Homo sapiens: one gene and its partner. Each later gene encodes a partner of the first gene's protein in a complex. Links are inferred from orthologs where the notes say so. Each region holds a gene or a part of one and is shown in the gene's direction. Other genes may lie near its edges.

Region 1 (3,600 bases):
ACCCTGGGAGACAGAGGGAGACTCTTTCTCAAAAAAAAAAAAAAAAAAAAAAAAGAGGAAAAAAGGAAATCCCCATTATGTTAGGCAAACAAAAACAGCCAGTTTGTGACTGGTGGCTAAATCAAGAAGGATCTTACAAGACATTTTAAGTGGTTTGGACTTTATATCAAGAGTCAGAGAGTGCCATTACAGAAATTTAAATAGTGGAGTACATAAAAGACAAACTGATGACGTTGTAAAGACTGGATTAGAAGGGGATAAAACTGCGGCCTGGGAAACTGGTTAGGTGACTTAGGCAGTATGCAAGATTTGAAATGATAGTGGCCTGAAACAAGATAGTGGTAGTGGGTATAAAGAGGAATTTGATACATTAGAGAGATATTATAGAGCCAGAAGCAAAAGCACTCAGTAATGGATTGGAAGTGTGGGGCAAAGGAGAGAAAACAATCACGAAAGTCATTAGCTACAAAAAAATCTTTAAAATGTATTGATTTATCTAGGTGTGGTGACTCACACTTGTAATCCCAGCACTTTGGGAGGCCAAGGGAGGGGGGCGGGCAGGGATTGCTTGAGGCCAAGAGTTCAAGACCAGCCTGGGCAACATAGCAAGCCCCTGTGTTTACCAACAACAAAAAAATTAAGAAAATTAAAAAAATGTATTGACTTCTATTGGTTTGCCAAATGAAGTTTAGTATTAAATCCAAAATTGAGTCAGAGCAGTGTGAACTGAGACAGCCATCTTCATCTTCTCCCTCTTTTTTTCAGTTTGTTTTGAAATTTAGTTTTATATACTTAAGACTTACCTTCTGGCAATTTGGAATTAAATTTCTGAGATTGCTGTAAATTATTTCCTTTCTTTGTTTCTCTTCCTCTTTCTTACTTCCCTATTTTACTCTTAATATTTTATTGTTTTAGTTGAATTCTAAAACATCTTATCAGAACTTAGAGTTTTTATTTCTCCACCCACAGAACCATGGAGTCTTTAAGTATCAGAAATTTGTCTCCTCGTCAGAATCTTCTAGATTTCCAGAAGTTTCCAAGTCGCTACATATAAATGTTGCAGAAAAACGTGTAATTCTCATGTGCAAGTAGGCTTTTTTCAGCGGATACATTTAGCATTATAGTCAATTGTTATTTCGTTGCCTTAAAAGAAGCTGTTTTCATTGTAAAGGTGATGTGTTTTTACCATATAATTCAAATTTGCATAGGTACTTCATATTTTAAAAGGTGACTCACAGGTATGTCACTAATAAAAACAGTAACATTTAAACGACTGAGAAGGTAGGGGCTCTAAATAAAGTAAATGCGTCGGCGAGGGTAGGAGCGGGAAGAGGCAAAGGGGTGCGAAATTCCCATCCCAAGCCCCCTCCTCCAAAGACCGAATGGCAACTTAGTTGTGCGGGAAGGTTCCCCCCTATGCAGGGCAGCCCAGTCCAAGCCGGCCCGATCCGGGGCCGAGTGAGCAGTGGTTCTTGCCGCAACCGCCACGCAGCCTCGCTGCCGCCCAAGCGCGGACACCTGGTTCCTGGGTCCCCCGCGCGGAGCCCCGGACTCCTCGCCCCTTCTCCGAACAACTTTCTCCCTGCTTGAACTGATTCTCGCTGTTGGTAGACTGCACAGTCACAGTATCCAGCCGGACAGGACCTGCTTTGCCGGGACTGGAAACAACTACCGCGGCAAAAGAGGCCGTTTCGCCATGGGAAGAACAAGAACTCCCGGCTTGTCCAGGGGCAGCCCCTCTCTGCGCTGCAGGGCGCCTACCCTCGCCCCAGAGGCTCTGCGCCGCGGGCGGGGCGACCCCGGGGGTCGCGCGCCCTCTCCCGGAGCGCGCCCTCCCTCCCGGAGCGCGCGCCCGACGGCCTGCCGCGGCCCCGGCGCCCCCGCCCCTTCGGGCGCTCCGTAGCCGTGACGTGCACGCCGCAGTGCCGGGGACTCGGCGGGGCGCCGGCCGGCGGGCGGAGACCGACTCGGGATCTGTCCGAGCAGGAAGCCAGCCTCAGCCCGGCCGCTGTCGCCGCCCTGTCCTGGTGCCCGTCCGCGTCGTCGCCCTCTTCACTGGCCCTCATCACTTCTCACCGCGCCCTCCAGCTTCACCCGTACAGGTAGCCCCGCCGCCGCGCACCTGCCTTCGCTCCCGCACCGGTGAGTGTCCCAGAGACCCACTGCGGGGCGTCGGCGCCGGGGTCTCGCGTTCCCTGGCCCGGCCTTGCTCCCGGGCCTCCTCGAGCAGCTCCGGGGCCGACGCTTCTGTTCACTGCCCGAGGACGCGGGTGGGAGAAGCAGGTGATGGATGGGTGGGCCCTGGGCAGCAGTGGGGCCGGCGGTGGTTCTCGTTTCCACCGAAAGACAATCAGTCTCCTTTCATGGGTTCTCATCACCAAGGTCCCTTTGTGTTTCTTCCCTGGCTCCCAGGTAGAAGCAGAGCACTCAGGTGCCTAACTCGGACTTGGACACTCCGTGATAGTTTTATTTTCTCTTTTGTAAACACGCTTAAAATTCAGTGCAGGGGGAGCGCAGTTTGCTCTGAGATGTGAAGATCAAATGATACCATTAATAGTCTAATCATGTAGGAGACCAGATCGAGACTTTCTAAAGCCTTATTCTTAGTCTCCAGGTGGTCCAGTACCTTGAGTATGTTAATTTACGGATATGCTACTGAACAAGAACTTTTTTTGTTAATTTCCAAAAACTCCCTAAAACGATTAAAATGCTTAAACTCTGGGATTTTAATTTTAAGTAGGACACAATTTGATGGGGTTATTGCTAGAACATCCGTGTTTAAAAGTATTTCCATACAGTTTAAAAAATTCATTACCTTTTTTTTTTTTTTTTGAGACGGAGCCTTGGTCTGTCGCCCAGGCTGGAGTGCGGTGGTGCGATTTCCTCTCACTGCACCCTCCCCCTCGCGGGTTCAAGCAATTCTCTGCCACAGCCTCCCGAGTAGCTGGGATTACAAGCGCCCACCACCACGCCTGGCTAATTTTTTTGTATTTTTAGTAGAGACGGGGTTTCACCATCTTGGCCAGGCAGGTCTTGAAATCCTGACCTCTTGATCCATCCGCCTCGGTCTCCCAAAGTGCTGGGATTACAGGCGTGAGCCACTGCGCCTGGCCAAATATTCTTTACATCTTACCTGGCATAAAGTGATGTGGTGGAGGGATGCTTAAATCCTGATTTACAAGTATTAGTGAGAAATGAGGAGCACTGCCCTAACTTAATAGACTTAACTGTACGGGCTAAATAAGCCTCATTTTTTTTTTTTTTTTAATGCTCTGGTGGTATAGATGCAGTCTATCTAAATAAAGTCAGAACTTGAGAGTTTTAAAAATTAACTTTTTTTTTTTTGAGACAGAGCCTCGCTCTGTCAGCTCACTGCAACCTCCACCTCCCAGGTTCGAACGATTGACCTCCCTCAGCCGCCCGAGTGGCTGGGACTACAGTAAGGGCGCGCCACTGCCCAGCTAATTTTTGTATTTTTAGCAGAGACGGGGATTCGCCATGTTGGCCAGGCTGGTCTCGAACTCCTGACCTCAGGTGATCCACTCGCCTCGGCCTCCCAAAGTGCTAGGATTACAGGCTTGAGCCCCCGCGCCTGGCCTG
Region 2 (4,119 bases), on another chromosome or scaffold:
GCAGAAGATGAACCCAGAGCAGCGATTCTGCAGGGGTTTGTGGGTCACAGTAAGGAGATTGCAGTTTTTCTTCCAGAAGGTGGGAAACTGTTGTAAAGTTTCAGGCAGGGCAGTGATGCCATCTGGTTTACGTTTTAAAATAGAGACATGAAGTTAAATGACAGCCTGAAGCTGGAAGACAAGAGTTCTGCCAGGGCAGCATGCAATTAAGTTCATGGGCCTGAGCCATCTGTACCACAGGGGCAGTTCCAGCATGCTGGGGCAAGCCTGGGAGGCTTCATGGAGGAGTGGGCCTGGAGTAGGTATTGGCAGGCAGAGAGGGTTGGGATATTCCTGGGCAGGGCAGGGCAGAGGAGGAGACACCCATAGTAATGACAACAGCGTCCTTAAATGGAGTCTGAGGCAGAGTGTAGATGGGATACGTGGGTAATCTCTTTGGATTTCCACAACCACCTTGAGAGTGACAGGAATTCCACCCATTTTTCAGATGAAGAAACTGAGGCCCTGTGATGTGAAGTGACTTGCCCCCCAGCCACACAGCTGGTAAGTGGCAGGGGTGGGATTTGAACCCAGGCCACGAAGCCTCTTATGGCCGTGGCAGGCAGATTCATTACTCACTCACTTTCCTCACTGCTGTTAATGCCTCCTCACGGGTGGGGACACGGAAGCTGGCATGAACCAGGGCAGTGGGGTGGGCAGAGAGAGAGAGTAAGGAGGCTGGGAATTGGTGGTCAGGATGTAGGGATCTTGGGAAAAGGAGGAAGCTTGAATCTTGGTACAGATGGCAGTAGCAAGGCCGGGTGCAGTGGCTCACGCCTATAATCCCAGCACTTTGGGAGGCCGAGGCAGGTGGATCACGAGGTCAGGGGATCGAGACCATCCTGGCTAACATGATGAAACAGCGTCTCTACTAAAAATACAAACAATTAGCTGGGCATGGTGGCGGGCACCTGTAGTCCCAGCTACTCGGGAGGCTGAGGCAGGAGAATGGCGTGAACCCGGGAAGCAGAGCTTGCAGTGAGCTGAGATCGTGCCACTGCACTCCAGCCTGGGCAACAGAGCGAGACTCCGTCTCAAAAAAAAAAACAAAAGATGGCAGTAGCAGTAATTGTCACCAATATTTATGCAACCCTTATTGTGTGCCAGGACTGTTCCAAGCACATGCATGATTTCCTTGGAGCTCAGAGAGGTTAAGACCCTTGCCCAAAGTCACACAGCTATTAAGAGATGAAGCCAGGTTCCAGATTCATGTTTTTAGTTTCCTGCCTCCCAGTGCGTAGAGCTGGCGGAATTGGAGGGATGATGAGGGGTCTTTTCTTTTTTCTTTTTTTTGAGATGGAGCCTCACTCTGTCACCCAGGCTGGAGTGCAGTGGCACGATCTTGGCTCACTGCAAACTCCACCTCCCGGGTTCATGCCATTCTCCTGCCTCAGCCTTCCGAGTAGCTGGGACTGCAGGCGCCCGCCACCACGCCTGGCTAATTTTGAAAATATATGGCTGGGCGTGGTGGCTCATGCCCACCTCGGCCTCCCGGAGTGTTAGGATTACAGGCGAGAGCCACCACACCCGGCCGACACTGATTTTTCTTTCCAGCGAGGTCAGAGCCCGGGGAGGGGTCAGAGCAGAGACAAATGCGACATGACTTATGTTTTACAGGACCATTCTGGCTGCTGTCTGGACAAGAAGTCGTAGGGGGTGAGGGTGGAAGCTGGGAAACCCACAGGAGGCAACCACACTAGTTTAGGTAAGTGATCATGGAGATGGACCAGGTGAGATGAGAGGGTGTGTTAGGGGACAGACGAATGGATGCATGAACAAATGGATACATGAGACTAGGTGCAGGCTGGGTGCAGTGGCTCACACCTCTAATCCCAGCACTCTGGGAGGCCAAGGTGGGCGAATCACCTGAGGTCAGGAGTTCCAGACCAGCCTGGTCAACATGGAGAAACCCCATCTCTACTAAAAATACAAAAATTAGCCAGGTGTGGTGGCACGCACCTGTAATCCCAGCTACTCAGGAGGCTGAGGCAGGAGAATCGCTTGAACCTGGGAGGTGGAGGTTGCAGTGAGCCGAGATCGCGCCATTGCACTCCAGCCTGGGTGACAGAGTGAGAGTTCATCTCAAAAAAAAAAAAGATTGGATGCGGCCAAGCTGAATCCAGCATGGCCCCCTGGAAGAGACCATTGGATAGGAGGCACCAGGAAGTCCCTTTTACATAAGAAAATATAGGCTGAGCGCAGTGGCTCACACCAGCCTTCTTTGGCTCACACCATGTTGGCCAGGCTGGTCTCAAACTCCTGACCTCAGGTGATCCACCCGCCTCGGCCTCCCAAAGTGTTGGGATTACAGGCGGGAGCCACCGTCCCTGCACCCGGCCTAACTAATGTATTTTCTTTCTTTCTTTCTTTCTTTTTTTTTTTTTTTGAGATGGAGTCTCGCTCTGTCACCCAGGCTAGAGTGCAGTGGCATGATCTCGGCTCACTGCAAGCTCCGCCTCCCGAGTTCACGCCATTCTCCTGCCTCAGCCTCCCGAGTAGCTGGGACTACAGGTGTGTGCCACCACGCCCAGCTAATTTTTTTTGTATTTTTAGTAGAGACGGGGTTTCACTGTGTTAGCCAGGATGGTCTCGATCTCCTGACCTCGTGATCCACCCGCCTTGGACTCCCAAAGTGCTGGGATTACAGGCGTGAGCCACCACACCTGGCCTTTTTTTTCTTTTTGAGACAGAATTTCGCTCTTATTGCCCAGGCTGGAGTGCAATGGCACTGTCTCAGCTCACCTCAACCTCTGCCTCCCAGGTTCAAGCGATTCTCCTGCCTCAGCCTCCCTAGTAGCTGGGATTACAGGCATGTGCCACTACACCCAGCTAATTTTGTATTTTTAGTAGAGATGGGGTTTCTCCATGTTGGTCAGGCCAGTCTCGAACTCTCGACCTCAGGTGATCCGCCTGCCTCTGCCTCCCAAAGTGCTGGGATTACAGGCGTGAACCACCGTTCCTGGCCTAACTAATGTATTTTCTTTTTTTTCTTTTTGAGACTGAGTCTCTCTCTGTTGCCCAGGCTGGAGTGCAATGGCACGGTCTTGATTCACCGCAACCTCCACCTCCCAGGTTCAAGCAATTCTCCTGCCTCAGCCTCCCCAGTAGCTGGGATTACAGGTGCCCACCACCGTGCCTGGCCTAATTTTTTGTAATTTTAGTAGAGACGGGGTTTCACCATGTTGGCCAGGCTGGTCTTGAACTGCTGACCTCGTGATCCGCCCGCCTCGGCCTCCCAAAGTGCAGGGATTACAGGTGTGAGCCACTGCACCTGGCCAACTACTGTAAGTTCTGGAGAACTAATCCGGGCTCTTGAGAGCAAGCACTCATTGCTTCCAGAGCTACTTCAAGCCATTCAGGAGAGATCTGGCCCCATAACACAGACACCTCCCACTAGGCCCCACCTCCCAACACCGCACCACCACTTTGGGGATCAAATTTTAGCATGAGTTTCTTTTTTTTTTTTTTTCTCCTTGCCATGTTTCACATTTAATAAGATTCTGTCACTTTAATACATAAAACCCTTTGAAATCAATGTCAACCAGGAAAATTCATGTTAGAAAAAATTGGAATGAGAGCTAATATTGTATATTCAGAACATCTGAAAAAACATTTTTGACTATTACAAAAGTTTATTTAACAAAAAGTCTAATATGAAAATGTACATGACCTAATTTTTACATCATAGTAAAACAGGCCCTATGGAGAGAGGACATGGGTTTCTCTGCTGAACAGCCATTATTTATACTCATTCCAAGGCTTCTAACATGATGATACTATTTCCTCGTATTTCCACCATTCCAATATTTTTCTGTTGTCCACTAGTCGCCATCTCCACACATTCATCTATCACAAGGTTCATAAAGGGATCAAATCCCCGCAATATTCCTTGGACATGTCTGCCACCATTTAATTTCAATGAAAACTTCTTGTCCGTAAATTTTTTCAACTCAGGAGGGTGAGCTTTGCTCATGGTGTATACTCCATGGGCTCACAGATGCCTTGGAACAGAACGCACGGCTTCCCTCACGCTACCGCGGTAGGCCCAGCATCTTGTGCCTGGCGTCATCGACCTCGTTA

What was found.
Region 2: the proteins of MYO6 (region 1) and GIPC1 are in contact, whole or in part, in a crystal structure (PDB 5V6E), measured with the Mus musculus proteins. The link is inferred for Homo sapiens from one-to-one orthologs. Residues at the interface, in NP_001034635.2 of Mus musculus: Ser1055, Lys1056, Trp1057, Lys1058, Tyr1059, Ala1060, Arg1084, Arg1085, Leu1086, Val1088, Tyr1089, Trp1092, Lys1093, Asn1096; in NP_061241.1 of Mus musculus: Glu273, Ser274, Tyr275, Met276, Gly277, Ile278, Arg279, Asp280, Glu282, Leu283, Thr286, Asp310, Phe311, Ala312, Pro314, Glu316.

The regions. Positions count from the first base shown.
Region 1 is NC_000006.12:75,747,282-75,750,881, forward strand, and holds the start of MYO6 (unconventional myosin-VI), read left to right. Parts: upstream 1-1,957; 5' UTR 1,958-2,142; intron 2,143-3,600. UniProt on the Homo sapiens protein: Myosins are actin-based motor molecules with ATPase activity. Unconventional myosins serve in intracellular movements. Myosin 6 is a reverse-direction motor protein that moves towards the minus-end of actin filaments.
Region 2 is NC_000019.10:14,489,281-14,493,399, reverse strand, and holds part of GIPC1 (PDZ domain-containing protein GIPC1), read left to right. Parts: intron 1-483; exon of another isoform or gene 484-487; 5' UTR 488-543; intron 544-1,656; 5' UTR 1,657-1,744; intron 1,745-4,119. UniProt on the Homo sapiens protein: May be involved in G protein-linked signaling.